Linked DNA regions of Homo sapiens: all the other regions are reported to be linked to region 1. The links are microRNA targets in miRTarBase. Many come from high-throughput screens and were not tested one by one. Region 1 holds a microRNA gene; each other region holds the end of a gene's coding sequence.

The links. The annotated mature microRNA hsa-miR-185-5p reads UGGAGAGAAAGGCAGUUCCUGA and lies in region 1 at 3,043-3,064, shown strand. An mRNA with a match to its seed (bases 2 to 7 or 8) in the 3' UTR can be bound and repressed. Matches are read on the target gene's strand: a 7mer-m8 pairs with bases 2 to 8, a 7mer-A1 pairs with bases 2 to 7 and ends in A, and an 8mer does both.
Region 2: miRTarBase lists ADD2 as a target of hsa-miR-185-5p. Seed matches in the 3' UTR shown: 7mer-m8 at 969-975.
Region 3: miRTarBase lists POGK as a target of hsa-miR-185-5p. The part of its 3' UTR that is shown has no 7-base or 8-base seed match.
Region 4: the mRNA of DLGAP4 is a reported target of hsa-miR-185-5p. Seed matches in the 3' UTR shown: 7mer-m8 at 1,686-1,692.
Region 5: miRTarBase lists MSL3 as a target of hsa-miR-185-5p. The part of its 3' UTR that is shown has no 7-base or 8-base seed match.
Region 6: miRTarBase lists DLG5 as a target of hsa-miR-185-5p. Seed matches in the 3' UTR shown: 7mer-m8 at 3,489-3,495.

The regions. Positions count from the first base shown.
Region 1 is chr22:20,030,111-20,035,183 of GRCh38, forward strand. It overlaps MIR185 (microRNA 185), which reads left to right and starts at 3,029; the gene lies at 3,029-3,110. The region is part of intron 1 of TANGO2 (transport and golgi organization 2 homolog); the gene reads left to right. RefSeq lists enhancers at 1,043-1,739, 2,174-2,393, 4,077-4,146.
Region 2 is chr2:70,659,286-70,664,358 of GRCh38, reverse strand. ADD2 (adducin 2) reads left to right here. Exons shown (of 16, transcript NM_001617.4): 16 at 624-5,073. The coding sequence ends at 934. Among named protein-coding and RNA genes, the nearest start is that of ADD2, 110 kb to the left of the region's middle.
Region 3 is chr1:166,849,464-166,854,536 of GRCh38, reverse strand. POGK (pogo transposable element derived with KRAB domain) reads right to left here. Exons shown (of 6, transcript NM_017542.5): 5 at 4,114-5,073; 6 at 1-1,952. The coding sequence ends at 4,128. Among named protein-coding and RNA genes, the nearest start is that of POGK, 13 kb to the right of the region's middle.
Region 4 is chr20:36,526,564-36,531,636 of GRCh38, forward strand. It overlaps DLGAP4 (DLG associated protein 4), which reads left to right. Exons shown (of 13, transcript NM_001365621.2): 13 at 250-2,070. The coding sequence ends at 468. The region is part of intron 2 of DLGAP4-AS1 (DLGAP4 antisense RNA 1); the gene reads right to left. Among named protein-coding and RNA genes, the nearest start is that of MYL9, 12 kb to the right of the region's middle.
Region 5 is chrX:11,774,127-11,779,199 of GRCh38, forward strand. It overlaps MSL3 (MSL complex subunit 3), which reads left to right. Exons shown (of 13, transcript NM_078629.4): 13 at 854-1,646. The coding sequence ends at 953. Among named protein-coding and RNA genes, the nearest start is that of MSL3, 18 kb to the left of the region's middle.
Region 6 is chr10:77,788,273-77,793,345 of GRCh38, forward strand. It overlaps DLG5 (discs large MAGUK scaffold protein 5), which reads right to left. Exons shown (of 32, transcript NM_004747.4): 32 at 2,519-4,271. The coding sequence ends at 4,168. Among named protein-coding and RNA genes, the nearest start is that of DLG5, 140 kb to the right of the region's middle.

The DNA.
Region 1 (5,073 bases):
AGGACTCTTGTAAAGAGGGCATTCTCGTGTAAGCAGTTGCTTTTTTTTTTTTTTTTTTTAATTTTTATTTTTTTGAGATGGAGTTTCCCTCTTGTCTCTTAGGCTGGAGTGCAATGGCACGATCTCGGTTCACTGCAACCTCCACCTCGTGGGTTCAAGTGATTCTCCTGCCTCAGCCTCCTCAGTAGCTAGGATTATAGGCACGCACCACCACACCTGGCTAATTTGTTTGTTTGTTTGTTTGTTTGTTTTTTGAGATGGAGTCTTGCTCTGTTGCCCAGGCTGGAGGACAGTGGTACGATCTTGGCTCACTACAACCTCTGCCTCCTGGGTTCAAGCAAGTCTTCTGTCTCAGCCTCCCAAGTAGCTGGGACTACAGGCGCCCGCCACCACGCCCGGCTAATTTTTGTATTTTTAGTAGAGACAGGGTTTCACCATATTGGCCAGGCTGGTCTCGAACTCTTGACCTCGTGATCCACCCACCTTGGCCTCCCAAAGTGCTGGAATTACAGGCGTGATAATTTTTGTATTTTTAGTAAAGATGGGGTTTCACCATGTTGGCCAGGCTGGCCTCAAACTCCTGACCTCAGGTGATCCACCCGCCTTGGCTTCCCAAAGTGTTGGGATTACAGGCGTGAGCCACCTCGCCCAACCAGCAGTTGCTGTAAAATTTTTTAAAAGGATGTCACTTATACTACCCAGTCATTAAGACTTCCTGAGGTGGAAAGATCACTTCAGCCCATGAGTTTGAGAATAGCCTGGGCAACATAATGAGACCCCACCTCTCCAAAAAAATTTAAAAATTAGGGCCAGGCGTGGTGGCTCATGTCTGTAATACCAGCACTTTGGGAGGCCAAGGTGGGTGGGTCACAAGGTCAGGAGATCGAGACCATCCTGGCCAACATGGTGAAACCCCATCTCTACTAAAAATACAAAAATTAGCTGGGTGTGATGGCACGCACCTCTAGTCCCAGCTATTTGAGAGGCTGAGGCAGGAGAATCGCTTGAACCAGGGAGGAGGAGGCTGCAGTGAGCTGAGATCGCGCCGCTGCACTCCAGCCTAGGTGACAGATCGAGACTCTGTCTCAAAAAAAAAAAATTAGCCGGGTGTGGTGGTATGCAGCTGTAATCTTAGCTACTTGGGAGGCTGAGGTGGGAGGATGGCTTGAGCCCAGGAGTTCGAGGCTGCAGTGAGCTATGATCACACGACTGCACCTGGGCGACAGAGTGGAGGTGATGTGCTTCCTCAAATAGCCATGAGAACAACGCTTCTTTTCTTGTCCTGGCTCAGGAACCTCACCACCATGCCACGTTGCCCTGCTGCGCTGTGCTGGTGTCGTAGGTCGGTGGCAGGACATTTGCCCACCTCACAGGCTCTGCTTTCAGTCTTGAAGTATGGCTCCTCTCGACTGCTGCCCACACGGCCTCCTGTTGTCAGCCTGGGCTACATATCTGGGCTCTTCCATCCCTGTGGGCCTGGTGAGGCCTGGCCATGTGCCTGTGTCATGCCAGTTGCTTTCAAGATGATGTTTCTAGTAGGACCACATGTGAACACAGTGACCACCATGGCCAGGAGGAAGCTGGCTGCCCATCACCAGCTTGCCCAGGGACCTCTTGCACCCTGGCGGGGATCAGCAGATCCTGCTATGAGAGAGCAGAAGGCAGCATGCTGACTTCCAGGAGTGTCCACAGCGTGGCTGGGCAGAGCAGAGCTACAAATGAACAGATCCAGTGCCGAGGCCATCCTGACTCTCTCAGGGGCTGCCAGGCCGTGGGTGCAGGGTCCAGCAGGCCCACTTGATCCCAGCATCCCACGTGTGCCTGCTCGGGGTGGCCAGCTCACTGCTTCTTCACCTCTAGCCCAACCAGCAGGTGCCCCACCATGAGCCCCTCCAGGCTCACCTTGCCCATCCCTGCCATGTGACCTGGGACTCTTGAGATGAGATCACAGCTGCAGAGCACACAGCACAGGGAGGAGCTCATCAGCATCTTCCCACCTGTGGTGCCCTGGCCCAGCCTCCTTCCGGTTGGGGTTGGACCCGCCCTGGCAGCCAGGTTTTGCGTCACCTGCCCCACCCGCCCTGTAACCTACTTGCCCAACTGCTATCCCGGTGGCCGTGAGGCCAGTTGACAGAATGGAGAGGGGTAAGCATTTTCCGCCTGGAGAGGATGGGCGTGTGGCCATCTGACTGCTTCTGCAAGCCTGGTGGTTGTGTGCAGGCTGCCCTGGTGGTCTTAGCCCCTTGGGGCAGGCGGGGTCCTGTGCAGGATGCAGAGACTGGGCGTGGCTTCCTGCAGATGTTCAGATGCTTCTGGGCTGTGGCCTCTGAGACCCAGGGCAAGGCTGCTGACTGGACCCCAGACCCTCCTGCCTGCCTCTTCCTCCAGCTGCTCTTTGTGGTCTGGTTCTGGCCGCCTGGGCCTCAGGGCCAACCCTGCATGGCTTTGACCACTCTGGCCTTCTTGGACTGCCAAGGACATGCTGAGAGTTGGTTGGGCTTGGCCCAAGTGCTGAGCCCAGGGCAGGGGTGGGGACAGGCAGGGCGGAGCCTCACCTGGAAAGCCAGGCACGATTCTCCCTGGGACACCAACCCTCCTGTAGAGTTGGCCAATTCGGGCAACCTTGAGGGCGAGCTCTGTGTGGCACAAGAGATGCCCTGAGGAGCCCAGCCTCACCTGGTGTGATGGGACCTGTGGAAGTTGTGGGAAGTGGTCCTGGCCACCCGTGTGCCCACATGCCCTGCGCCCAGATCAAGATATGGTGACCAAAAGGACAAGGACTATATCCATGGCTCCCTCCCAGAGCCTGGCAAGTCAGCAGGCATGAGAGGGTGTTGGAATGCTGTGGTGGGCCTGTGTGGGGACCTTGTAGGACCTAGGGAACCTGCAGGGCTTGGCTTAGGGAGCACACAGGGGCCCAGGCAAAGGCAAGGTCACAGGTCGGGGGAGGTGAAGCTGGCAGGGGGAGGGGGAGACCTGCTGGCTAGAGCTGGGTTGGGGGCCGGTGGGCAGTGGGCCTGGCTCGAGCAGGGGGCGAGGGATTGGAGAGAAAGGCAGTTCCTGATGGTCCCCTCCCCAGGGGCTGGCTTTCCTCTGGTCCTTCCCTCCCAATGACCGCGTCTTCGTCGAGGCCACAGCCCTTGGCTCTGCGCCCACACCTCCAGTGCCAGGCTGTCCGGAGATCTGTTTATGGCCTTCCCTTGGACCATGGAGCCCTCCCTGCCACTGGTGCCTGGAGGGCTGGTCTGCTGCCCCTGCACCCTGGCCAGCTAGGATGGTGGGGTCCTGCAGCTGAACTGGGGGTGCCTTTCTGCCTGTCTGTCCTACGTGTATCAGTGGCCAGAACTGCCCTCATCCATGGCCTTGCCAGCAGCTGGGCGTGCAGCCCAGGGAGGGCTGAGGTCGGCTGAAGTTGATTGAGACCAACGGCCTTCTCTAACACCCCAGAGGAGCATGTCCCTGGTGAGCAGGCCTTGGGCAGCCCTGGGCTCCAGGCCAGTGGGATTCCAGTAGAGACCAGCTGGCAGGGCTTCTCCAGTGACTGCAGCCAGGGGTTCTCATGTGCAGGAAAGACCAGCTCCTCCAGAGTAAAGGGACTTGTGTCTTCTGGCCACATGGTGAGTGCTGGGCCCACCCCATCAGTGGCACCTTGGGTGCACTCCCAAAGCCCAGCGTGTTCCCCATCTTCCTGCACTGCATTCGGGATGGTTCTGCATCATCAGCTGCACCTGATTGCTCTTAAACCCACAGCTGAGCTTTAATGTGCAGTCACTGAAGCTTTCATTTCTAAAATAGCTTCCTAAGAGTTCTTTTGGCCAGGCATGGTGGCTCATGCCTGTAATCCTAACACTTTGGGAGGCCGAGGTGGGTGGATCACCTGAGGTCAGGAGTTGGAGACCAGCCTGACCAACATGGAGAAACCCCGTCTCCACTAAAAATACAAAATTAGCTGGGCGTGGTGGCGCATGCCTGTAATCCCAGCTACTCGGGAGGCTGAGGCAGGAGAATTGCTTGAACTCGGGGGGCGGAGGTTGCGGTGAGCCGAGATTATGCCAGCCAGCCTGGGCAACAGGAGCAAAAACAAAACAACAACAACAAAAAAAAACCGAGTTCCTTTTGCTGCTTTGTAAACCCAGTTTGCTCTTCATCACTTCCTTTGCCCTGCAGATGTTTCTGAGCTGTCTGTTTTCTTTCTGCCATCAGAGCATGGTTGGTTGATGATGCATGTACGGTTATCTTTCTGCTGGTTCTTGCTCATGGTGCTTCTTTCATTATGTGGTTCTTTCTGACTATGTACTGCTTCTGGTCTTTGAAAAATGATTTTGAGACTTCTTTGAAGTATAGGATGAAGGTATCTTTCTCCAGAGAGAACTTCAGGCACAGGGGCACTACGAGTGCTGGAACCCCTTAAAACTGTGCTTGGCTTGTGGGTCCTTGTACCCCCAGTGTGGACCTGGACGGCTGGCTGTGCCACAGCTTCTCAGAAACTTCCCTTCACTTATGTGCAATGTCCCCATAACCCCTGGGGGTGGCTGCGGCTGTAGTTCATCTCTCCCTAAGCATCGCTCTTTGGAGTCCCAGCCTAACTTAGAGGAGAGTCTTCTGTTAGGTTCTTCATCCTGTGGGGGTGACTGGACCTTGTCTTCTGTCTCCTTCGCCCCCGAGGCCACCAGAGTATGAGCCCCAGTGTGTTCAGTGGGCAAACGCTCTCAGGCAGGATTGGCCACTGTGTTCTGCTGTCCTCTGTGGGCCACGCTCTCCGAACTGTTGGCCAAATGCTGCATGAGCTCATCAGCTCCTGGCAATTTTTAAGATGTTTTCATATTTCATCCAGCATCTTGAGTTGTTTTTACCAAAAGGATTGCCCCTAGTAGCCTGCCCACCCTCGGATGATGGCCCCCTGTGGGCGCTTCCAGGGCACCCGGCAAGGGGACCCAACCCACTTCCAGCCCCACAGTCTGCTTCCCACAGGGCCCCCTTGCAACAACACACCCTTTAGCTTCCCATCCTATGCAGAGTGGTGGCCAGCAGACCATCTCAAATGGCTGCCCATCCCCCTGACCCAGTGCGTCT
Region 2 (5,073 bases), not on the chromosome of region 1:
TAAAGACCTGGGGGCCCCAGTGGCTGCTAGAAAGGGCTGACCAGGGGTCTTCCCCTTTTGACTAACATGTCTTGGAAATATGGGGTCTGTGTTATATAAGGAATTCCACTCTCCCTCTGCCTACTGGGAAGATATTCTCCATATTTCTTGGAGTTCCTCACTGGTGTAGAAAATGAAATGGGTTTGAGGACATGTAATTTCCATGTTTTTATTGGTGAAACTAAACTGGTTACAGCAATGCTTAGATGTCTCCACCAAGCTGTACACCTCACGCCTTCTCCTTTCTCTGTGTCTGTTTCTTCTTTCTTGCCTAGAAAAACTCTGAGCTGGACCCCAGCCGGGCCTCCTGCCACTTCAGACATTAATATCCATCTAAATTCATAGACAAGAGCCCAGAGCTGCCAGCCTGCAAGGGGGTGTTCCCAGGACAGGCCACATGGAAGGTGCAGATCAGAACCCAGTCCTTCCATCTGTCTCTGGTAGCCATCCCTCAACATCAGGCTGGCCCTCCCCTCGCTCTGGATTGATTTTATAGAATTCCCTAGAAATGGTTCTGTTAGCCCCAGGTGGAAGCTGTCACCTGAATGAAATCTTACAGGTCATATCTTTTGATCTTTTTCTAGAAGGTACTAAGAAGACAGAAACAAGCAAAGCCGCCACCACAGAGCCCGAAACAACCCAGCCGGAAGGGGTGGTGGTCAACGGGAGGGAGGAGGAGCAGACGGCAGAGGAAATCCTCAGCAAAGGCCTGAGCCAGATGACCACCAGTGCTGACACGGATGTTGATACCTCTAAGGACAAAACCGAGTCGGTCACCAGCGGCCCCATGTCCCCAGAGGGCTCACCTTCCAAGTCTCCCTCAAAGAAGAAAAAGAAATTCCGAACCCCCTCCTTCCTGAAAAAGAGCAAAAAGAAGGAGAAAGTGGAGTCCTGATTCATGACACCCTTGGGCTCCCTCCTGCCTCCTCTCTCTCCTCCCCTTCCCTTCTCCCATCTCTGTCCCTGCAAGCACAGGGCTAAGGAGGGATAGAGTAGGACCCTGGACCACATTCGGAAGGGGAACTTAGAGATCACCCGACCAACCCTTCGTTTTACAGTTGCCCAAGAGAAATCAGGTGACTTGCCCAAGGTCACACAGCTAGTTAGCGGCAGAGCCTGCACTCGAATTCAGGTCTCCTGACTTCCAGTCCAGTGCTCCTTCTACTACACAACACTGCCTAGTTGTGGGCTGCCTTTGTTTGGATGCTGTCCACCAATCTGAGCCTAGGGCAAGAAGGCCAGAAATGGGCCGTGAGCTCTCACAGGCTCAGACTAAATCAGAGGTCAAGGCTTCCCCTGAGTAAGGTCCATTTCTTCCCAGGAATCCAATCTCCTGTGGATGGAGCTATCTCTACATTTAAAAATCTCTTCTCTTTTCCACTTTGGGTCCCTGCCCTGCTGCTCAAAGTGACTAGCCAAATTGACCCCTCCAACAGAAAGTAATCTTTGTTCCCAAGGGCTGATGGCTTAGCTTGTACTACCCCAAACATTAACCCTGAGCTTTCTTCATGGAACCTCTTGAATGATGGATGGAAGAGCTATAAGAGGTGGTAGGCATAGGGGCAAGCCATGTAAGCTGAGGATTGGGGATGGTTTCATCAACATAAGAGGCCAGGAACTTGACCCCTTTGAATTGTGCATCTCAGGCACTTCAAAACTAAAACCAAATTTAGCATAGGAAAAAGTTGTTTAATGCTCAGGGCAGAAATTTGGGGAAGTTGAAATCCTCTGTTGGCTTTGGGTTGTATAAGGAGGATCAAAACAACAGAGGAAATGCTGACTTTCTAGCTTTGCATGACACCTGGAGCAATGCACTGTACCTGCCTCACTCCTGTCCAGTGGTCAGGTTTCCCCTGACCTTCCCTCACCCCCAGAAACACTTGCTTACAGACCGAAACTGGCATCTTACTCTTGGCACCTTGACTTGCACCCTCTGAGGTTCCAACTCAGTCATTCTTTGTCCAGCAGAGGAGAATCAGAAATGAGCCCTTCAGGATTAATCCTCTTGCACCAGCTCTCAGAGAAATGCTGGGTATCCCTGTCCTTGTCCCTATCTGTCCATCCTGGGGCCTGGTAATGGCCACAGTTATTGTTTTAAATGCCAACACTGTCTTCTCATGTTCTTCCGTGGGGCATTGATTAATGAGCATTTGTTGGCTCCTAAAAATTAGACAATCCATTCTCTTGAAAGCACCGTGTCTTGAAAGAATATTTTTCCTTTTGATCTGACTATCGTGAAAATATTTTTGAAAGTTCTTAATCATAGTTTTCCACTTTTGAGCACTTGCTATCTATAGACACTGTGCAGGCTTCACATACATTACATTCTTTAACCCTCACAGTAATCCTTTGAGGGGGGTAAGATCATTCCCATTTTGTGGGTGAGGAAATTGACCCCCTAAAATGATAATTGACTTGTCCCAGCTGACTTGGCTAGAAAGATCTGGATCCTGGATTTGAATCCAGGTCAGTCTGAGTCCAGAGCCCTTGCTCTTAACAGCTATGGTGAACAGACAACTTTAATCCCCAGGGGTGGTGGTTTTCATCCAGGATTTGTCTCTATGACTGTTCTCCATTGCATAATGTTAGCACGTGAAGCAAAGGTAGGGAACACCCTGTGCTCATCCTCATCACTGCACGTGAAGTTCCTGGTCAATGTGGACTGTGGTGATGCTACTGTGTGCCTCTGACAAAGGAGAGGCAAGAGCCTTCTGGTTGGGGCGGGAAATACCATCCATAGTTGGCTATTTCTTGAGAAGGAAGGAAACTGACCTAGGACCAAGGTAAACCTGACACTGTGTCTCTCTAGTGCAGATTCCTAACTGCTACCCCAGGCTCCATCTCTGTTCTACTTCCTGATTGGGTCAAATTTTAGGAGGGACAACCCACTCATGCCTCAGAAAAATCTGTCATATGGGAAATGCCTTTAAAAGCCAATCCCTTGATGCCTTCTTTTAAAAAGTAGATTTCACACTTATTCATTTATCCTTACATGGTATTTGTTAAGGATCCACTGAGCACCAGGCATTATGCTGACGTTGAAAGAGAGCCATCATTATGACTAGAATAATAAGTGGCAAACGATGTTGTGAGAATGGTGAACACGACCTCTGATGCAGCCTTTTGTGTGCGAGTTGTTCTACTTCGGGGGTGATGTTGATTGCCTCTGCATTCAACACACTCTATTCCCTTGACAATGAGGCCTCACTTAGGCCTCATTGGGTGGAGTCTTGCTGCAGCATTATTCTGGGAATTTATGCCATGGGCCCACTTTCTATTGATAGATGAACCTGTCAGTTGGTTCATTCCTCATGCATTCCAAAAACATGCATTGAGCTTGGGTCAAGGGCCAGGCATGAGGATAGGCATAGTTCCTGCCCTCAAGAAGTTCATGAGCATAGGAGGTGTATAGACAAATTGCAAAACAGGCAAGGGTACCAAGGTGGCATAAGAAAGCATCAATTAACTATCTTGGGGACCAGAGAAACCCTGAGAGAAGCAATGGCTGCTAAGGTTTTAAAACAAAGAGTAAATTTCCAGTAGAATGAAAGGATTGGCAGGGCATGCCACAATGAGGGAAGAATGTGCAAAGGTGTGGACGCATGAAATGCCATGATGGGTTCCGCTGAGCAACGTGGCATTGCCAGAGCATGATGTGGAAGCTCAGGGGTTGAGGGGTCCCTTCATAGGTAGGCAGGGCTGAATCCTAAGGAAACTGGTAGGAAGTGTGGAGGAGCTAGACTTGTCATGGAAGGGGTTTGGAGCCACTGGAGCCTTTAAATCAGGATAGAGTCATGATCAGAATTGCATTTTAGGAAAATCCCTTTGGTGGCTGAATGGAGACTGTGGACTGGATGGGCGTGGGATGGTGGCATGGGAGCTATGAGGCCTTTTTGAAATGTCAATACTAAAACATAGTTGATGGCCTGCTTTACACGATGTTTCCTCTACAGCAGATAGTGAGTTTCCAACACAAAATTTATTTCCATAAAAGTCTTTGGATAAAGCACCTTAAGAGGGATTTTCAACAAGGAGAGGGGAGCATTCAAAGAGCTAATGTTTCCAGTTTTATTTTGTCTTGGTGTAGAATTGCTGGGAGAGGTGTCCAGCCATCCTGCCATTTCTTCTTCCCTTGCACAGAATGTGGCACATTTAGCTCCAGGCTTGAGGACATGCACCAAATGCTACAGAAACAGACATGTGGTCCAAACAAATCTACAGGCTATTAGAAAGGAAAGGCCATTTTCTTTGGCTGTGGATAAAAGTTGGCTGAAAACTTTGACCAATATCTGACTGGAGAAAATGTGTATTCAAGAGCTCAGATTTGGTGGGCAGTAGGTTCATGTCTGGTTGAGCTACTGTGCTTGGATGTGCCAGAGAAAAGGGTAACATTTGAACCAATGTGCTGCTCTGTGGCTGGCTGAGCTGGGAAGTGGAGAGGTTTCTGAGCTTATTTCCATCGCAAGGCAGGCAGGAGGAGAGAGGACAAGAAGGATTAGTGGTTTCGCAGAGACAGGCTTGGCTCCAACGGCTCCTTGCGTAGTGTTGGCTGCACCCAACAGTGGTGTGAGAGAACCGTCCATACCATGTGACCTTCCTCCCAAACTGCAGAAAGAGACACCTTCTAGCCCAGATCTGGACTCCCTAAGAGCCTCCTGGCCTGCATGCAACCCAAGTAACTGTCCTACTTTGGCCAGTTGACCCCCTCCACTCTCCTATAACTAAAACAGGGTTCTTCCTCTGTGAACAGATAAGTTCTTTTTAAAGGACTTGGGGGAAATTGGATGAAGAGCAGTAAGTTCTTACAGTAAGAACCCCACTGTAAAGCACTGCCCTCTGCCACTGATCCATGTAGACTGAATTTGAATCCCATTCCCTGTGGATGATACCGTCACTTGCTCATGGTGACATGGCAAGACAGTCATTCAGATGTTTGGCATTGTTGTAGCAGGGCTACTGCTAGTGTGGGGGAAAATGCTATAAATCCACTTCTTTGATTGCCATGGATTTGAAAGAACCATTTGCCCAACAGCA
Region 3 (5,073 bases), not on the chromosome of region 1:
GCCAATACCTTGAATGTAACTTTTCACAATGCTAATAGGTAAAGAAATAAAATCACCATAGCCTATTGTCTTTATTATCAAAGTTTATTGTTGGGGTCAGTTCCTATCTACTAGGGAGTACAACTATATCTCAATATGTGCTATAGTAATTCTAGGGTAACAGCCATTCTGCAAAATAGTTGTACTGGGGCTCTGTTAGGCATAGATCATAATTAAGTCAGTGGAAGAATGAGCCCAGAGAAACCCTGGCAGCAGAGCCGTTACTCTAGGAAAGTTCCAGTGCTATGCAACCTGTAAGGCATCATCGCTCAGCTGATGATGAGACTCACAGAGGTGTTGGTGGAGCGAAACAGGAGTTGAACCCATTTTCTACTCTTCTTGGCAGGGTAACTATGGCTCCAAGGAAGGAACCCAAAATTAGGTCTTGTAAAATCTTTTAAGCTCCCAAAGCAAGAGAAATAAGACATGAAGAAAGAGCCAGTAACTAGGACAGATGAAAAATTAGGTGGAATTGGAGGGAATGGAAACTTCTGGAATGCAAAGTAGCTGGGTTTAGACGCCATTTGAGATGACCAAGAATACAGTACAGGTAAAAGCAAATGGGGCAACAATTCAAATATTGAGTTGTTCAAATACTAGAGGTTAAGTAAAATTTCCCCCCTTGGGGGAAAACTGGTTGAAAAGGATCAGAAAGGTGAATCAGTAACAGGACAATGAGTACCTGAGTAGAAATAGGTGTTTCAAGATGCCAAGAACAGTTTAAATATACAGGTGAGCTGAGTCTACAAGAAGGAAAAGTGGTTATGGCAGCCTGTTTCCAGATCTGATCATTGGAATGACATTTCTAGCAATGGCTTTGTCTGTGAGGTCCTGGCATATTTTGTGTAGCACAGATCCCTTTAAAGGAATGTTTTCGTAACACTCAAACTTATGTGGGAATGCAAATTACTATAGTGTAAAAATTCAATGACTTCCCACCTATTCCTGCAGGGCAGGAGATCAGAAGTCTTAAAACAGCTGTGGCTAAAAGCCCAAGCCCTCCCACTGCCCCGTGATAAAAATATTAAAGAAATTAACAAAACAAGCATCAGATGAGTCAATGGGCCTTGTACCATGTAGACAACAGATAATTTATAGCGACTTCTTCTGCAGGCAGCCTGAGAAACAAGAGCTTGCATACGAAATCCTGCCCTATCATTAAATATAATAATGAAAAAAACAGGGCCATTAAATGAGACCCTAAAAAAGTCTAGCTGCCAATCAGGTTGGGAAGATAAATAAAACAGCATAGTTTATTTTAACCTATATCTTCCACACTAACCTAGTTTGTCTATAGAAAAGCCATCTGCTGGCACCAGGCCAGTATGTCTTAATTTTCTTGTTATTCTAAGTATCTCATTTTTCCAAAAGAGGAAATGTGTAAGTAGCAGGTGTACATAGGTGACACATTTCTACAAAGCCTTCTCTGTAGTCTTGACCTGTGTGGGGACAGGGTCTACTTTTGGAAGCATTTTCAAAGGCAGAATAAAACTTTACTTGAGGTTTTCTCCATAGAAGGACACCAGAGTTGTGCCCATATGATGAGTCCCTCGTTGGTGTTGAATAAATTGTCTTTTCTCCAGGAAATAACCTTTGTTCTTTCATATTTACAGGTTTCTTTTGATGGACAGATGGAGTAATCTCCAAAACAAGAAATGGGGCAGAAGCAGTTTCTTTTCTGATCATGTCTCTGATGAAATGATAGGTCCTAGACTTTTCTGATACCTTGTATGGTGTGGGGAGGGGCTGGGCTGTGTCCTGGGATGGATGTACAGGCTGCTGTCTGGACCGGGGCTGTTCAGAGCCCCGTGGCCTTTTCCTGATGTTCCCTGCGCATCCAGCGCATCCACACTTTCAGGAATAATCATCTTGAGGAATTTCATCCCCAGCTGTTTAAATCAGAGTTCCATTTGCTGGAAAACAGAGAGAACCTAAATGAATTAACCCTTGGCTTTTTGGTATAACTTTTAACAAACATAATAATTCCATCATTCAGATTTCCAAATAGAGGCCAAGACGTAGTTTTATGCCCACTTGGTCTCCCAAATCTCTTGTTCACTGTGAATCTGTCTACTCCCATCACTTCCTCAGGAGCTGCAGAGAGAATTGTGGCAGACTAGAAGAGCAAAAGCTCATGACCAATATTACAGGCCAACATTCATAAATGCAACTTAGCATAGCTTTTTCTCCTTTCCTCTTCTGGAAGTTTTTAATCATGTCCCTGAGGTGGTAAGGAGCTTAGGAAATTAAAAGTGCACAAAAATGTTATCTAACAAGGAGAGGGAAAAGCAAAAGGTAAATGAAGAAAAGATGGAAACTCAATGTAATTCAGTTTGATATCCAATGCAGGCAATATAAGGGTCAGCAGAAAAGGGAGGCTGGATTCATGGGGTTTCTCAAAGCAAGGAGGACCCAAGGGGGAAAAAAAAGCAATTTTGGTGATTTTGAATGTAATAGTAAGAACTTCTTGCTCCATTGTAATTCCAGGGATCCCAGAATTACAATGGGATTCAGCAATATGAGTACAATTTAATTTGGAAGCAAGGCAGGAGACATAAGTCACTCTTTGAAACACAGATGGACTTATATAGCTGAAGTGGGTAAAATAAGGCTCCCATTAGCATTTCATTTGGAGAAAAAAGCAAGGAAGATGGAAATACCTAATTATACTTTAAAAGAAAGAAAAAGAATGTGTGAAGATGGTTGACGGTTTCAGGTCCTCTGTAAAAAAGGTGGCTTCTTCCTTCATATAAAACACTGTCTGGAGGATCAATTTAATTTATAATTAGGGAGATGAGAACGAACAGGTAAATGAATTGTTTGTTCTTTGTGGGTGTCCCCCCTGCTGTACATGCTCATCCTCCTCCTCTCTGGAGGTGTAGGTGGGTGGGGTCATTTCACTAGTGTTGTCTCAGTTAGGCCTCCATTCCTACTTTCCTTTGAAAGCTGTTCTTCTTGTGTACTCAACCCAGAAAATTCCAGGCCTATTGTCCTCAGCCCTCACTAGAGTCCTAGATACGCACCGTTTTATTTTCTTTTTTTGGTGTAAAGATTCAGTTAAAAAATATCTTCCTTCAGACATCTGCTGACTACAGGAAATTATTGTCATAGCCCATGTGAAGGTCATAATGAGACTAAGATGACGTTTTAAAACTCCTGAACTCTGTAGGGAAAAGCAAGTAGAAGCTATTATTCTTACTCGCTGGTAACATACTGTAGATAGCTCCAGGACTGAGACCCGAGGCCCGGAGGACACACTTAGTGTTCTCCCTATGTCACAGTCCTACAGGCCAGCAAAAGTGAGTACAACTGTCCCAGCATGTCAGTTACACATACTGGCCCTAAATGTTCAGCATAATTTAAAAGGGAAAGAAAAAAGTTGGCTTTTCAGACAAAATTTTGTGTGAACTGAACAACGTCAGACTATGCTTCTTTGGGTCCAAATAATTTTAACTTTACAGCTCTCAGATGTTCTGGCAGCTCATTCTTTGTTCATTTCACCTATTATACAAGTGTTTCTGGGTCCAAGCCACAGAGCAAAATAGACACAAATAAATCAAATAATAAATGTTTCATATAAAGGAGAAAATGCTAATGGTCTGTTATCTATACCAGCAGTCCCCAACTTTTCTGGCACCAGGGACTGGTTTCATGGAAGACAATTTTTGCAGGGACCCAGGAAGTGCGGGGTAGTGGGTGGTAGGATGGCTTTGGGATGAAACTGTTCCGCCTCAGATCCTCAGGCATTGAGGAGCCTGCAACCTAGATCCCTCACATGTGCAGTTCACAACAGGGTTTGTGCTCCTATGAGAATCTAATGCCGCTGCTGTGACAGCGGGCGGAGCTCAGGTGGTAATGCTTGCTCACCTGCCGCTCACCTCCTGCTGTGCAGCCCAGTTCCTGACAGGCCATGGACCAGTATGGTCCGTGACCTGGGGGTTGGGGACCCCTGATCTACACTACTGCACTGTAGGCTCTAAGGGAACTTAAAAACAGAAAAATAATGGAGAGAAGGTGTTTGTAGAACACAGACATGTCAGCAAAGGCACTGAGTATCTACTCCTGAGTGGTTACCTTTCCCTTTCCCTTCAGTTGCTCTCAGCCATGCTTTCGGTGTCACAATCTTTTGGTGGTTCTCCTCCTCCTGGCAACTCACTCTCGATTTCCCACAGGACATCGTCTTCCTCCTCCAAGTTGCTGGAGATATGGCACTTCTTGAACCCTTGGACGATGGACTCACTTGAGATGCTATTCCACGCGACCATGACCCACTCCAGAAAGAGGCCCAGGGGTGGCTTCTTAGCATTCCCGGTTGGGCTCAGCGCCAGGTTCCCAGCCAGAAGCCAGTTGGAGTACTGGGCCCGCACACTGTCATTCAGTGGCTTGTAGACCACGACATCCAGCACCTGAAGCTGTGAGGTCAGACCCCCTGGGATGATCACCATGTCAGTGTTCATGCTTTCCATGGAGTTCTTCACGGAATCTGTGGCATGGCCCCGGAAGCCATTCAAGATCAGCATCCCTCGCTGCTTGGGCACTGCTCCTGTCCTCCGTCTCCACACCACTTCCAACCAGTCCTGCATCAAGTCTTCAGTCATCCACCCATACCGGTGGCAGCGAATTTCCATCCCACTGGGAAACTTCCCCGGGGGGATATATGTTCCCCTCAAAATGATGTACGGTGGTAACTTCCTCCCATCAGCCAAGACACCAAGCATTGCTGTGATTTTCAGTTTTTCCCTGCCTGGTGTCTTGACCAAGACAGGCTTTTCGCCCTGGTTATCAACAGTTACCCGTGATGGCACCTCTAAACAAATGGGCGTCTCATCTGCATTCCCCATCTGAGCTACCTCATAGTCATGCGCCCTGCGCAGAGCCAGGACACTGCGCTGGTAAGTGACGAGTTTCTCAGTCAGGTCTTCCGGCAGGTGCTGGGGCACGGGCACTTTATGCCTCAGAGACAGGTCATACCTTCTCATCATTCTTCGACACCAACCCAAGCTTGCCTTGAACCCTTTCTCTGGAATGTTCATT
Region 4 (5,073 bases), not on the chromosome of region 1:
GGGATCTGCCCGTCCCCGCTGCTCGAGCGCTCTCGGAGTCTAGGCTTGCTTTCTGCTCCAGTGCCTTGAGCTCTTCCCACTGTCAGTCATCGCTTCTCGTGGCTTCCTGATTCCAAGTGTGTGTTGCTTGTGCCCGATGCGGGGAGGCTGGGGTGGAGACTCCAGCTGCCGGCATATGGTGGGGGTAGTGCCACACAAAACGTGGCACCTTTATTTTATTTTTGTTCTCTCCTCACTGTCTCACTAAAGGAAGAGAAGAAACCACCCCCTCCGGTCCCAAAGAAGCCAGCCAAATCCAAGCCGGCAGTGAGCCGCGACAAGGCCTCAGACGCCAGCGACAAGCAGCGCCAGGAGGCCCGCAAGAGACTCCTGGCGGCCAAGCGGGCAGCTTCTGTGCGGCAGAACTCAGCCACCGAGAGCGCAGACAGCATCGAGATTTATGTCCCGGAGGCCCAGACCAGGCTCTGAGACCATGCAGGAGGAAAGAAACGATTTTAAATCATTAAAAACACAAAAACTAAGTGCGAACGGAACAGAGTTTTCTCAACCTTTGCTATGGTTATTCTGTCTAGAGACCCTGAGCCAACTTTCAAATTGACGCATACAAGGGCTCACAATTTGGCTTTTTTGGGTCCCTCCCAGCTTTAGGTTATGAAGATTTTACTCACAAAAAAAATCAACAAAAATCACGAAACTAGAAAACTTTTTTTTTCCTCTTGCTGGCCGTGGTGGACTAGATAGATGGACGTCGGCAACTCCCGGCCCAGCCTCCATACTGCGGTCTTTTTACTCGTTCTATCTGATGAGAACTCACACTAGCTTGTTTACAAGATGACGACAGTCCAAGGGCAGCCTTGGGCACCTGCCATGTCCCTCCTTTCCCCAGCTATCCCCGCTCTGACCTTGATTTTCATTCTTATGTTTTTCTCTTTTCCCTTCAGAGCTCACACAGTGGTCACCATTGTGGCAAGCGGCTTTCTGGGTCTCAGCCCTCTCTGCGGTTGAGGGCCCAGAGGACAGAGAGATGGACATGCGTCCCCTCCCTCCCCCCGCCAAGTGCTCACACACAACCTCACGCGCACACACACACACGCAGATGGAGGCGCCTCACTGGGAGGTGCCCCGCCAGCCCTGGGCAGTGTCAGGCAGGACTCACTCACCGCTGAGCAGATGAGGGAAGTTTTAGTCTTGGCGGGTGGAAATGAGACGAAGCCACAGTTATCACACTCCAGACTCCTGCCCTTTTATTTTCTCCAGCCCCTTCTTCCTTCAGCAAAATCTAGGACTCCCGAGTGGCTTCCAGGGGGCCGTCAGTCCTCAGCCGCGCCTGTGTCCGGTGCCCGAGGGGCGGGCGGCGGTGTCTGTATGTATGTGTACATATGCACATAGACCTTAGAGTGTATAGTTAACAAACGCCCATCTGCTCACCCATGCCCACCCAGCGCCGCCGCCGCTGGCTCTCGGGGCACCTGGCAGGAGGCGGGTGTGTGAATAGCATATATTTTTACATGTACTATATCTAGGTGTGTGTACAAGTGTGTGTAAAAATATATACCTTGTGTGTAAGCAGCCCTTTTTTTTTTTGGTCTCCACCCCCCTCCCCCCGCCCCGCACTCCTAAGGGCCCATCTGCCCAGCCTCTGAGTTTTCTGTTCTATTTTTTTTTTAACCCCAATTATCCTTCTCTCTCTCCTGCCCCCGCATCCCACTCCCAGGGTGTCACGAGCCCTGAGCTGCAATGGCCCGGGCCTGCAGGGCGGGGTAGGGGAGGGCAGGGGCTGAGCCCCGAAGCCAGCTCAGTACCTGAGGGGCTGCTCTATGCTGTGTATGCGCCTCTCTGGCATCCGAGACATCCTCTTGGCTGGCGCTTGCTGCAGGGGGGGACCCCCCCCCGTCCCCAGGTGAACCAAGGGTCTGCTCCGGGGCCCATTTCCAGCTTGGCCGCCGTCTGTGACCTTGGGCAAGTCACTTGACCTCTGTGTGCCTCAACTTCCTCCTCTGTAAAACGGGGACAGTCCCTGCCCCTCCCTACCTCACAGGCATGTTGTGAGAATAAATGAGGTAACGTGTACCAAGGGCTTGTGGCATTATTGCAGGGGGATGAGCAGAGTGGGCCCAGGAAACTGAACCAGACCCCTCCCAAAAGGCAGCTCTGTGGAGACAGCCTGATGGGAGTGCCAGCCGGGATGCCAGCTGTCACATGCCAGCTCTGTGATCTGGGGCGGGAAGATGGAGCTGACCGTCCCCTCTCCCGAAAATCAGTGTGCAGCACTTACCAGCTTCCTGTTTGAAATAAACCCTTGAAAGATAGATGCTATCACAGGAGCCAGGATAGGCTGATAAAGACGACCCTAGAGGACAGTTTACACCCCCCACAGATCCACAGTCTGCACATTCTCCAGGGTGGGGTACTCGGTATCCCCCTGCCTGGCAGCTGCTTCCACTCTGTCAGGTGCGAGCCCTGAGTGCATCTCCAGAGCACCTCCTCTACAGGCCCAGTGCTGGGGCAGAGCTCGCTCTGGTGAGGGAGACAGATATTGAACGTGACAGATAAGGTCAAGTCAATGACAGGTGGTAAAAAACAAGACGCAGCAGAATGAGGCTGCAGGACCCCGCAGCGCGACCACCAAACCCAGCCTGGGCAGGAGTGTTCTGGTAGAGACCAGAAGGATGAGTGGGTAGCCAGCTTTCAGGGAGGGAGCGGCACGCAGTCCTGGCAGAAGCAGGAGGTGCCAAGCCCCAGTGGTAGGAACATACCTTTTCCTTTTTTTTTTTTTTTTTTTTTTTTGAGACAGTCTTGCTCTGTCACCCAGACTGGAGTGCAGTGGCGCGATCTTGGCTCACTGCAACCTACGCCTCCTGGGTTCTAGCAATTCTCCTGCCTCAGCCTCCCGAGGCTGCCATTATGCCCGGCTAATTTTTGTATTTTTAGTAGAGATGGGGGTTTCACCACGTTGGCCAGGCTGGTCTTGAACTCCTGACCTCAGGATCAGCCCCCATTGGCCTCCCAAAGTGCTGGGATTACAGGCGTGAGCCACCGCACCCGGCCGGAACATGCCTTTTAGAAAGTTCTCTGGCCAGGCTCTGGAGCCACAGACTCCTGGTCTCCTCCCTTGGCCCAAGCCAGCCAAGAAGCTCGTGATCTCAGGCCCAGGGGATGCACGGACCCTGCCTTCCCAGCAGCTTTGTTCAGGCTACCTCGCCCACCCCAGCGAGCCCCCTGGGAGCCCATCCGAACTGTGGCCAGACCCCTGTGCTTGGAGCAGCCCTTGACCCCGGATCCCAACACACCTGTTAGTGGTGACAGAGCATCTGGTGACCACAGGTGGCTTGGATTAACTCCAGGGCTGGCACCTTCCCAGACCTACCCCTACCCTGAGACCCAGCTGGGGGTGACTTGAAGGGTAAGTGAAGAGGTTTCCAGTTGCATCAGGCATTGAAGCAGACGTTCAGGGGTGCAGCTAGCAGCCGGCTCTCCCGGATGGGCCATGGGGATTGGGGATGGACCCTTAGCCTTCCTGCTTCTGCTGTGGCAGGGGAAGGGACTTGAGGGTTAGATTAGGGTCTCAGGAGGGATCCTGCACTCTATTAAGCACAAGATGGGGTAGGGGTGTCTGATGTACAGAATCTGGACCCCCACGCCCAGCCCTCCTGGCACAGCAGTGGAGAAGACGCCACCTCCATTGAAGGGACAGTATAATAATGAACACATATCTCGCGGCCAGAGTCACCGATTACTGATATTTCACCCATATGAGCATTATCCCTCTCGGATACATACACATCGTTTTCCCCGCGAGCCATCTGAGAGTCAGTGGCATACACTGATACTTCACCCCAAAACACATCATGCAATTCCCAGGCACGAGGACGTTCCTGCACAACCACAATACCATCACCACCCTCAAACTTAAGAAAGGAATGTTCCAGGGAGCACCTCCTTTTATATGAATATGGCCTAAAGCACAGCCCATACGCCAGGTGCCCTCACAACCTTGTCCCTTATACCTTCTCCCTTTTATCCATCCAGGGTCCCATTAAGGATCAGTCACTGCTTTCAGTTACCATGTCTGTCTGGTTTTGTTTTGTTTTGTTTTTTCTTTTCTTTTTTAGACAGGGTGTCACTCTGCTGCCCAGGCTGAAGTGCAAAGAATGGTGTGATCACGGCTCACTGCAGCCTCAACCAACTGGGCTCAATCAATCCTCCTGCCTCAGCCTCCCAAGTAGCTGGGACCACAGGTACATGCCACCATGCCCAGCTAATTTTAAAATTTTTTGTAGAGATGGAGTCTCACTTTGTTGCCCAGGCTGGTCTCAAACTCGTGGGCTCAAGTGATTCTCCCGCCTTGGCCTCCCAAAGTGCTGGGATCACAGGTGTGAGCCACCATGCCAGGCCACCACGTCCTTCTAGTCTCTTTAAAAATCAAAATTTCCCTACTTTTTGGGTTTTGTTTTTCGAGATGTTGATGGCGTTTTGTTTTTTGTTTTGTTTGTTTTAGTTTATTTTGTTTGTTTTGAGACGGAGTCTCACTGCAACACCCAGGCTGGAGTGCAGTGGCGCGATCTTGGCTCACAGCAACCTCCGCCTCCTGGCTTCAAGAGATTCTCCTGCCTCAGCCTCCCAAGTAGCTGGGGACTATAGGCGCCCGCCACCACACCTGGCTAATTTTTGTATTTTTAGTAGAGATGGGGTTTCACCATATTGGCCAGGCTGGTTTTGAACTCCTGACCTCACGTGATCCTCCCACCTTGGCCTCCCAAAGTGCTGGGATTACAGGCATGAGCCACCGCGCCCAGCTGAGATGTTGGTGTTTTTAAAGTATCCAAGCGCACTCTACAGAATGGTGCACTATTTGGGTTTACGTTTTCTCATGGCCGGATTCAGATTAAATGGTTTTCACAAAAATATGACTTAGATGATGTCCCATGTCCTTGTATCTTGTTCCATCAAGGATGCATTTGTCACTTCAGAGAAAGGCTGACAGCAGCTTCCCAGAGAAGCTGGGAATGAGTCCTCAGCTTCTGTGTTTCCAAAGCCTAGTCCTTGAGGGAACCAGGACAGGGACAGACAGGA
Region 5 (5,073 bases), not on the chromosome of region 1:
TTCATACATATGAGTCTTTCCTGTGTCTTGGTACTGTTAGCTAGAACTGTAACATGTTTTGGCATGGCAAATTAGGACACCAAATGCCATTACTAGTTGTTCTGTTCAATTTTTGTATGACTTTGCTCATATAAATGATGTACATTTCTGAAGTGAGATTTATTGTTTATAATCGTTTTTTATTTTTTATTTTGTTTATTTATTTATTTTTGAGACGGAGTCTTGCTCTGTCGCCTGGGCTGGAGTGCAGTGGCGTGATCTCGGCTCACTGCAAGCTCTGCCTCCCAGGTTCATGCCATTCTCCTGCCTCAGCCTCCCGAGTAGCTGGGACTACAGGCACCCGCCACCACGCCCAGCTAATTTTTTGTGTTTTTAGTAGAGACGGGGTTTCACTGTGTTAGCCAGGATGTTCTCGATCTCCTGACCTCGTGACCACCTGCCTCGGCCTCCCAAAGTGCTGGGATTACAGGCGTGAACCACAGTGCCCAGCCTATAATCTGTTGTTTTTAATAGTTTGTTTGAACAACAGAAAAATGTAGAAACATTCATGGGCTTTTTTTTTTCCGCCCCCAACAGAAGTGTTTATATAACCAGACTGCCACCTAGTGGAGTGTAGGTTCTGTTTCCATTTGTACACCTGATGATGGTGAAGGCATTCAGATAAGTAGTAATTCACATAGAAGCTGGATAAGTGCAGTGAAAATAATCAGTATAGAGAGATCAAAATTATAGTCATTTTTTTCTTCCTAATACCAAAAAACAGTTGAAATGTTAGTAGGTTGAAAGTCAATATTTTGCTTGATGGTATTTAGTCCTTAGTATGGTGCTCATTGGGGCTATTTTTTTTTTCCAGGTTTTTAGCAGAATACCACGATGACTTCTTCCCAGAGTCGGCTTATGTCGCTGCCTGTGAGGCACATTACAGCACCAAGAACCCCCGGGCAATTTATTAAAATGTTGTTGGTTCTGTAAGAGCAACTGCTCTGTCTAGTTTGGCGCTCTGGGTTCCAGGTGAATAACTAACAAGGTGGTGGGTCTTTACCCACAGCGCAAACACAATGCCCACCTTGGGGCTCTGTTGTTTGAGTTGCCCACATACTGCAGTTATTCTGTTAGGAATGATTCCCTGGGTGCCTGAAAGTGCTCTGACACGACACTTGTTACTTTGCAGGCCATCTGTGATGGCAAGGAAAAAGCAACTATGTTCACAGTGAAATATTCGTGGAATAGGTTAGGCCATTTCAGTAGACATTGCAGTTAGTTAGCAAGAACCACATTGTCTCTTTATTTGTTAGCATTAAACAAATTTTTTTTTGCAAATTGGTTTTATTTTTTTGATGAAGCCGAGCAACTCTGTCCAAAAAGGTTTAGTTTGTACTCGGAAACCACAAAGTAGTCTCAAAGTATTTTAGAGGGAATCGATATTGATGGCAAAAGAAAATTTGCAGCTATGCATTTGCTTCTAACGGTTCCCTCTCTGTGAAACATTATTTTTGGTGATCTAAAGAAAGCATTGCCTTTCTTATTTGAGATTTTACAGCTATACTTTGTTGTGTAATGTTATGGTTCCCTTTCTGTAAAATGTTATTTTTGGTGATCTAAATAAAGCCTGTCTTGTTTGAAAGAACCAGGAGAGAGAGTTTTCACTCTGGCCTTGTCCTCTTTAATGCAGGGTAACAGTGGGGTAACCTTTTGACTCATAACTTTAGGTTTCATTTTGTTTTTCCTTTGTGCCTTTTTTTGTTAAATCCCTCTTTGGTTTTGCCTCACTTGGCAGCAGGACCAGACAGTGGTTCCTAGAAGTTCCTGCAGTTCTGTGCTGTCTTGTTGCTGCATTGTGGTCTCATCTGGGGCTAACACCAGCTTATCCTCCTCCTCCCTCATTACCAACTGACAGTCTCTGCAGTCACTCCTCTAATCCTTATTTTAGTCGCACATGCCTCCCCTATCTTCAGATGTTTTAGAAAGTTCTAACTTCGTAGAAATGGTATCAGTACCATACCAGCATTGAATATAGCACCTGCCTTGTAACTCAACTCAGCAGACCTTAACTTCCAAAGATCACTGGTTGTGAACAAGGGCCACAAAGATTTTTTAAAAATCTGTAGATGGTTTCATCAAAGTGACTTATGCATACACTGACCAATGAGAATTAATACTGTGCACTTAGTTGCTAAGTTAGACGTGGGTTTTGGTGTCTCATCCGGAGTAGTACTCAGGTTCCTGGTAGCTTTTATCTCCATTTGGTTTATGCAATGCTTGTTTGAATCTGGCGCACCTGCAGTGTGCTCTGAATTGCTTAAAAAGCTGAATCAGTAATTACTTATGGCCAGGAAAAGGAAAAAGATTTTCCTTTGTAAGACTCAACTTGTTTAAATGTCTCCAATGAAGTGAGCACAGACATTTATATAGGCACATACCTTGAGTTTACAGTTAATTCATTTTCTAATAATGAACAATTATTTTCTTCCCCTGAAGGCATTTCTTAAATATAACTTCAAAAGTTGATGATGTGGCCGGGCGCAGTGGCTCACGCCTGTAATCCCAGCACTTTGGGAGGCTGAGACAGGCGGATCATGAGGTCAGGAGATCGAGATCATCCTGGCTAACATGGTGAAACCTCGTCTTTACTGAAAATACAAAATAATTAGCCGGGCGTGGTGGCGGGCGCCTGTAGTCCCAGCTACTCGGGAGGCTGAGGCAGGAGAATGGTGTGAACCCAGGAGGTGGAGCTTGCAGTGAGCTGAGATGGCGCCACTGCACTCCAGCCTGGGCAACAGAGCGAGACTCCGTCTCAAAAAAAGAAATAAAAACAGTTGATGCTGTGCAGCTTTGGTTGATTTAAGTACTAATTTTTCATCAAAACATCTAACCCTCTATTGTTTATTACTAATAATTCAAAATATTCCTCAGATAAAAATATTTAAATGTCTATATAATCCTTATACAAATTACAAATTATCTTCCTTTTGTTAATTTTTAAATTGTTACTTTCTTAAACTGCCAAACCTTACAGTTGTTAAGTCTTATATTCATTGTCAATGTTTTCCTTTTAGTAGTAATTTAAAGGCATGTTGAAAACAATATTTCAATAATTTCTGTATCAGACCCTTGTACTAGATCTTTGACAAAAACTTGTGAGAACAAAAAAACCATTTCTGAGCAGAAATGGAATATATAAATCATTCCAGGGTATGACGTACACTAAAGAAGCCAAAGAAAACTTATCAATTTATAAAAGTTGCTGTCTCTCATTAGATATTGTCAACTCAAAAATTTGAACAAGTATAATGACCCTGTTTTGCAGTTAAAAAGATAGTTCAATAGCCTTTGCCCTTTAAGATTTGGCTTGTCAACAGTTAAGTTTTTCTGAGCAGTTATTGACTACTTATTCTGCTGCCAGAAACTACTAGGTATTGGAAACGGGAAGAAATAAGGCATGGTCCTTGTTGGAATACAGTTAAGATAATTTTTACAGGCACTGACCATCATTTTTACTAAATCAAGTTTGGTATTAAGGAAGTGTGTTACTTTAATCAGTTCATAATATACAAAAGTGTAATGTAACCCATAAAGGTCAGCATTTTCCAAAATTAACCCTTCCATTGTCCCAAAAATAAAGTATGCTTCTATTAACTGGTTTTCAGTGCAGAGGGTTTGATCATTGAATGTTTTCATCAGTTATGAAATCTGGCCAAGATGGTGTTAAGGAACTTGATATACACTTGGGTAAAGGGGTTTCAATAGATTAAGTTGAAAGCAATAACTTGGAAATCATGTTTATACTCCAAAGAAGCAAGAAACTCCTCAATAAACTAGTTAAATCTTTTGAACTGGATGACTTTAGTGTGTATTTGTTTTTATGTTATTCTGGTCAAAAGACCAAGTGCTTCTCTGGAATCCACCTTCTAAACTCAACATGAGTTTATCGATGGCTATTTCTTGCCTTCAGCCTTCCCTCCGGTGTAAATTATGGGATATCTAACCAATGAGCAGAATACAAGTCCCCAGCAAATTGTCTCAGGGCCTGGGATGTACCTAGCCAGCACCACTCCCTTTGCATGGTGACAGGCACAGCAACTGGGAGGCTATCCCACATCATATCCAGAATGGACATGTTGCCAACATGCATCATACGTGGAAAATACATGTGTTAGATCTTTCATCACACAGTGAGGAATGCAATTACTAGAAATGGGTGAATAAGCAAGAGTTCACATGTAGTTGAACAGTTGGGTTGCTGGAAATCAGGAGACCTTTCCTACAGGATGATGCTTCTCCTGCTTTGATGGGCAGTCTTGCTAGAATGTGGGTTCTGAGTCAGCCGGCCTGAACTGCTAGTGAGCTCCCAGTCATGCTGAGGCTGCTGGCCCTCAGTCTGCACACTGAGCAGGCAGGTTCTGAGATATTGTTTGAGGGGATAGGATGTACGAAATCGGGTAGGAAGCAGGATTCAGACATAGTCAGTCCTTTCTGCAATACTTTATGTTCTTCCTTTTGTTCTCAGGATAGCTACATAAGGAAGGTATTATGTCTTACATAAATCAAGGAATTAGAATTCAGATTAGTTAGAAGCAAGAGAGAATTCAAACAGATCTGTTTTGATTCTAAAGCTATTTCACTGCAACTTTTTCCAAGCCAAGGCAAGACAATAGGCAAGCTTTATGGGTCAGAGGGTAGAGGAAAGAAGTAGGGAAACATTTGGAATCATTTTTCTGCAGTCTCTCCACTTTCTCCATCTTCTTCACCCTTCCCACGTGTTCCCAGGATTCTTACTGTTTTAAACTGCCATCTGCTTGGCCATTTGCTTGATTCTGGTATTAAAGGAAGAGGCAGTTGTTAGTTTAAGGCTTTATCGTTTAGGTAGCTAGATCTAAACTGGATTTATTTTTTGTAATTCTGAAATATGAGGGCTGATTGCAAAAGAAGAAATCTATTAAGTTCATCCAAGATTCAATGACAACATCTTTCACTGACCACACTTTCAAGAGTTTTAGAGATGTTTGGCTTCCTAGAGGATTTAACAAAATATCTTAGTTTTGGCATCCAAATCCTTTGTTGCATGGGGTTGTA
Region 6 (5,073 bases), not on the chromosome of region 1:
AGGCACAGTGGCTCATGCCTGTAATCCCAGCACTTGGGGAGGCTAGGGTGGGAGGACTGTTTGAGCCCAGGAGTTCAAAACCAGCCTGGGCAACATAGCAAGATCCCATCTCTACTTAATAACAAAACTATACACTTATATTGGATATGCTCTTCTCTATGGATGACATCTTTCACAGTTGGGGAGAAAAAGAGATAAAAACACATAGTAATAGGGAGAACTAAAGGGGAACCATCAGGAGGCCAGAGACTATATTCTACAAAGGGAGAGCAAATGAAAGAGTATGGACGGACAAGAGAAGGGTGAGGGAACCCACAGGCCAGAAAAGTAGCAGAAGGGGGCAGTACAGAAGGCCCACCCACCCTGGAGCCCCCATCTGCTGAGAGGTCCACCGTTCCCACGCCAGCACGTGCACCCTTGTCTGCGGTTTATGTTCACTCTGCATCCCTTCCTGTACTTCACGTTTCTCTTCATCTTTGACATCATGACCCTTGTGGCCCTGTGTCTCATCAACCCCACAGGAGGTGGCAGCTCGGCTTCCCCAAGCCTCTGGTTAGCCCACTGCTGTTGAGCCTCAAAGCTTTGTCTTGGCTGGAAAGAAAGGCCTGAGGCTTCTGGCCGGTGCTCGGCTTCTACTCCAGAGCTGCTCAGGGTCGGCGCCTAAGCATGAGGTCTCCTCCTGCCTTGAAGCTGGGGTTTCCCACAGTCTCTGCTAGGCCAGGAGCAAAGTCAAGCTCCATTTGAGTCCTGTTGCCCACCCATATCACAGAATCATAGCTGTTAGCATGGGAAGGGGCCGCAGAGGTCATCTCATATTCAATTTCTTGGTCTCATGGCTGGAGTTGAAGAATCTGCTCTGCCTTTCCAGAATGATCTGAGCCAGTGTGAGACAGACACCACCTCCAGGAGGAGGCCCATTTGGCTGTGCCCACAACCCCGCCCCCCAGCACAGTCTCCATGTGGGGTAAATAAGCCTCTAACCCACCAGGGTACAAATCCTTTCAGGGCTGCTTGACAGCATGTCTCGGGGCTGCCCTGCAAGGCCCGTGTGTCCAGAAAGAGCGATCTCAGTGACTTAAGTGCCTTCCACCTGAAAAAGACATAGGATTTTCCCCCCCTTGTAATTATAAAAGAAAACCAAGGTACCTGTAGAAAATCTGGAAATTACAGAAAAATCTAAAGAAGAAAATAAAATCACGATGGCCTAAGTGCAACTGTGAAGGTTTGGCATCACACCTGAGCTCTGTGAAAGAAACCAGCCCTAAAACCAGCAGCCACCACCCCAACCCCTACACCCCCATCTGCCCAGTCAGTGACTTAAAATCCATCGTGTTAGGCCGGGAGTGGTGGCTCATGCCTGTAATCCCAGCACTTTGGGAGGCCGAGGCAGGCAGATCACCTGAGGTCGGGAGTTTGAGACCGGCCTGACCAACATGGAGAAACCCCGTCTCTACTAAAAATACAAAATTAGCCAGGTGTGGTGGCGCACGCCTGTAATCCCAGCTACTCAGGAGGCTAAGGCAGGAGAATCACTTGAACCCAGCAGGTAGAGGCTGCAGTGAGCTGAGAGCATGCCACTGCACTCCAGACTGGGCAACGAGAGCGAAACTCCGTCTCAAAAAAAAAATATATCAACGGCTCTGCTGCCCATTCTGAGGATGGCGCAGGGTGTGGGCTGTCAAGGAGACAGAGGCAGGCCCTGTCCCTATGGACACAAGGGCCCACTCCAACTACCAGAGCCCCGCACAGCTCTGTGACACCCCGTGGCCACAGGTGAGATCAAGACTGCAGGGCCACAGTGGAACTTCACCCAGCAGGAAATGATGAGGGAGGCATCCACATCAGTCTGCCCCCACCAGCCTGGCCACCAGTGGAGTGTGAGTGAAGCTTCTGGAGAACATTCTGCCCCCAAGCCCCTCCAAGAAAAAGGATCAGAGAAGGAGGGCTCTGCTCTGCCCCAGGCCTCAACCTGGCTTCCTGCAGCTAAAGGCCCAGCCTCCCAACTTCCTCATCACCTTGCAACACGGAGTTCAGGCCCACGTGGGCTGTTCTGGGAGTCCAGCAATGCTGGGTGATCTCCCAGTGTGATGCTGTCAGGTACTACAAAGCAGCCCCCAAGCAGGTGGGGCCATTCCCAGCCAAGGGCCCCAGACAGGGCCCTGACTGAGAATGCTACCCAGAGCACTCAGCTCACTCCCTTTTGCTTTTCCCAAGCCTGCAGAATTGAATGTGAGGGCCAGAGGGCAGAATCTGGGTCTCACACAGATGGGCAGCCTGGCTGCAGTCACCAGTTCATGCCACACTGGACAGATGGGTGGCAGGGAAGGGCAGGAAGGAGTGAGAGAGAGGCTGATGCAGCGGGTAGCAGGGACTGCAAATTGTCATGTGAGACAGAAAGAACCTACACATCAGCCAACTCCAGCTACGTGCTGCAGAGGAGAAGCTGTCTCAAGTTTAGAAATACAGGAAAGCTGACTGACTAGGAAGAGATTAAAAACTCACATCTTCAAACACAGCCTTACAGAAATTGACCTTTATTTGTTGTACTAAAGCCTGTTTAACTTTTGATACAAAGTAACATTTTAGTACAGAAAATCCCAGTCTGTCAGCTCAGTACCTGTCTGTGCACACTGTACCATCTCAGTCCCACTCTGCCTGTAACTTAGAAAACAGCCCCTACCCCCAGAGGGTCTGCGAGTTAATACCTTGAGAATAGTCTACAGTTTTTCATAGTTTGTCTGAGCTAGAAAACTTGTACCTGTAAAACAAAGGACAGCATTGAGGACTGAAACTTGTCTCTTTTTTGAACAACTGTGCAAGAAAATATATCCCTTTTTAAAAAACATCAGTTATGGCTAAACTACAATCTAGTGTCTAGAATTACAAAGAATAAAATGAAATCAAAGATTTCTCGCTAGTAAAATGAAATGTTAGGAACAGTATTAAAATATAGGTCCTACCCCAACGACACTTACACAGAGCCCAGTACAGTACCTATTATTAACAGGACGCATAGCTTAAGGAGGAACCACATCAAATCTTCAGCCAGACATATCTAGCCTCAGAAGTGCAAAAAAAAAAAAAGCCCCCAAACGAAGACACCCACACTGAGTAGGGTGCATGCCGTGAGTGCTGTAATCAAGATTAAAAAGACCTCAGTTTTTCTTTTTAGACTGTTGATAGTGACAATAACCATTATGCTTCCCCTAAAAGCTCTCAATTCAATGTCTGAAACATGAATGTTTTCATATCAAAAAGAACTGATGTACCTGCCACCCTCTAAAAAGTTTAAGAATTACCCTGCAAACATTGCACTGATGAAGGCTGTCACGACTTACAGAGCCTAAGGAGGACCCAATGGCAGGCATCAGCACAGCTGAACACCACCTGGACCCCACTGCAGCCCTGCCCACGCAGCTCTCACGGAGCAGACACAGTCCTCAAGTAATAAGCACAGATGGAGGAGAAACGAGAGGCTGTGGAAGGCAGGAGAGAAAGGCCGAGAGACGAGTTTGTAAGAATGCCAAAGTCACCTTCCCCATTGTGGGAGGAAAATGCCAAAGGCACTGGTTCTGCTGCCACAGGCAGTCTGAGCACCTGGAGTTGTGACGTCCTTCCAGGAGAGGTGCCACCAAGGAGCAGGAGGTTTGTCAAAGCTCTGGTCCCACCAACAAGAACCTCCCAAAGCAAAGCAGCCCCCATTGAGGTTCCAAGGTCGTTTTGCTGAAGACGGGAACGAAACCAACACCAAAGCGACAGGGGGTTGACAGAGGGGACAGGGGCTGGGCACCGGCAACATGGAGCCGTTCAAGTAAACATAAACCACCAAATACTTAGAAAAGGCTTGTAAACGAGTGATCCGAAAGGTTCTCTTTGCAGCATCTCTGATCAGCTGGCTAAAGAAAGGTGGGTGCTGAACCCGTCTTTAGTGTTATCTGTTTTGTGTTAAAGCACACGTGTGACACGGGCAGAGTGTGTGGGCCTGGGCCTGGATCGCACGCAGCCGTGGCCCTCTGTCTACAAAGGAGGTGCTTCTGGGTCCTGGTTCCGGATCCTTCCCCCGCATGTTCATAGACGGACAGACTTCTACTTTCAGTCGCTAGAAAAGAGCTGAGTCTGGTGTCCCCTCAGGCGGCCAGCTGCAGTCATCCACAGCACAGCATTCTCCTAGAGCGGGCAGGCTGGAATCCACAGGACTTTATTTTGTTCTTGATTGACCATTGCCAAGATCTGAGTGCAAATGCTTGACAGGGCTCCTCCCTGGATGACCCCTGCAAAAGAGCCCCCCAGACACGTCATTCAGCTCAGAGTAAGACCCCAGGTTTGAGGCAAGGCAGTACAGCTTGCACTCTTTCTACTGTGTGGCTGTCTGCTTTGTGCTCCTTGGCACTCTGCTCCATCCCCACCTGACTCTCCTTCACCAGCAAGAAACTGGGAAAGAAAATTGCCCCTCTTGAGTTGATCACTCATATGTAAACTGCCCACCCCACTGCAGTTAACACCCTGGGTTGGGTTTGCAATGGTTGGGGGAATCCCAGGGCATCAGAAGGAAGTTTGGAGGACATGTGGCGGTGGTCTAATCATTAGCAGGATTCTGCAGGAAACGACAAGTTTAAGGAGCCAGATAGCTCATGGCCAAGAGGAGAGTCACAGAAAGATGATGGCGCCAACTTGGGCCAGCCCTGTACTATAGGAGTTTGACAAAGGGGTCTATAGACACCAGGCCAGGGGTACTCCAGTGTGCTCCACATAACAGCACCTGGACACAAACCAAGCCCCTACTGCAACAAGGCATGCTCAGAAATTGACAGTGAGTGTCTAGAAACTGCTATGGAAACAGGACGTCGTAATTTTATGTCTGTTGAATCTAACAAGAAAAAAATAGAGCTTACCTTTTGCAAGACTTAGAGTTTTAAATTTTCATCTCTCTAGGAATTGTCAGTGTATTTGGCTAAATACCAGTCTGTGAGGAATTGGAAATGAAAGTTCACACACACACCCACACACACACACACACAGAGGCATGCACACCTGCACATACCTACACACACATGGGCACCAAGCCCAGGTCCC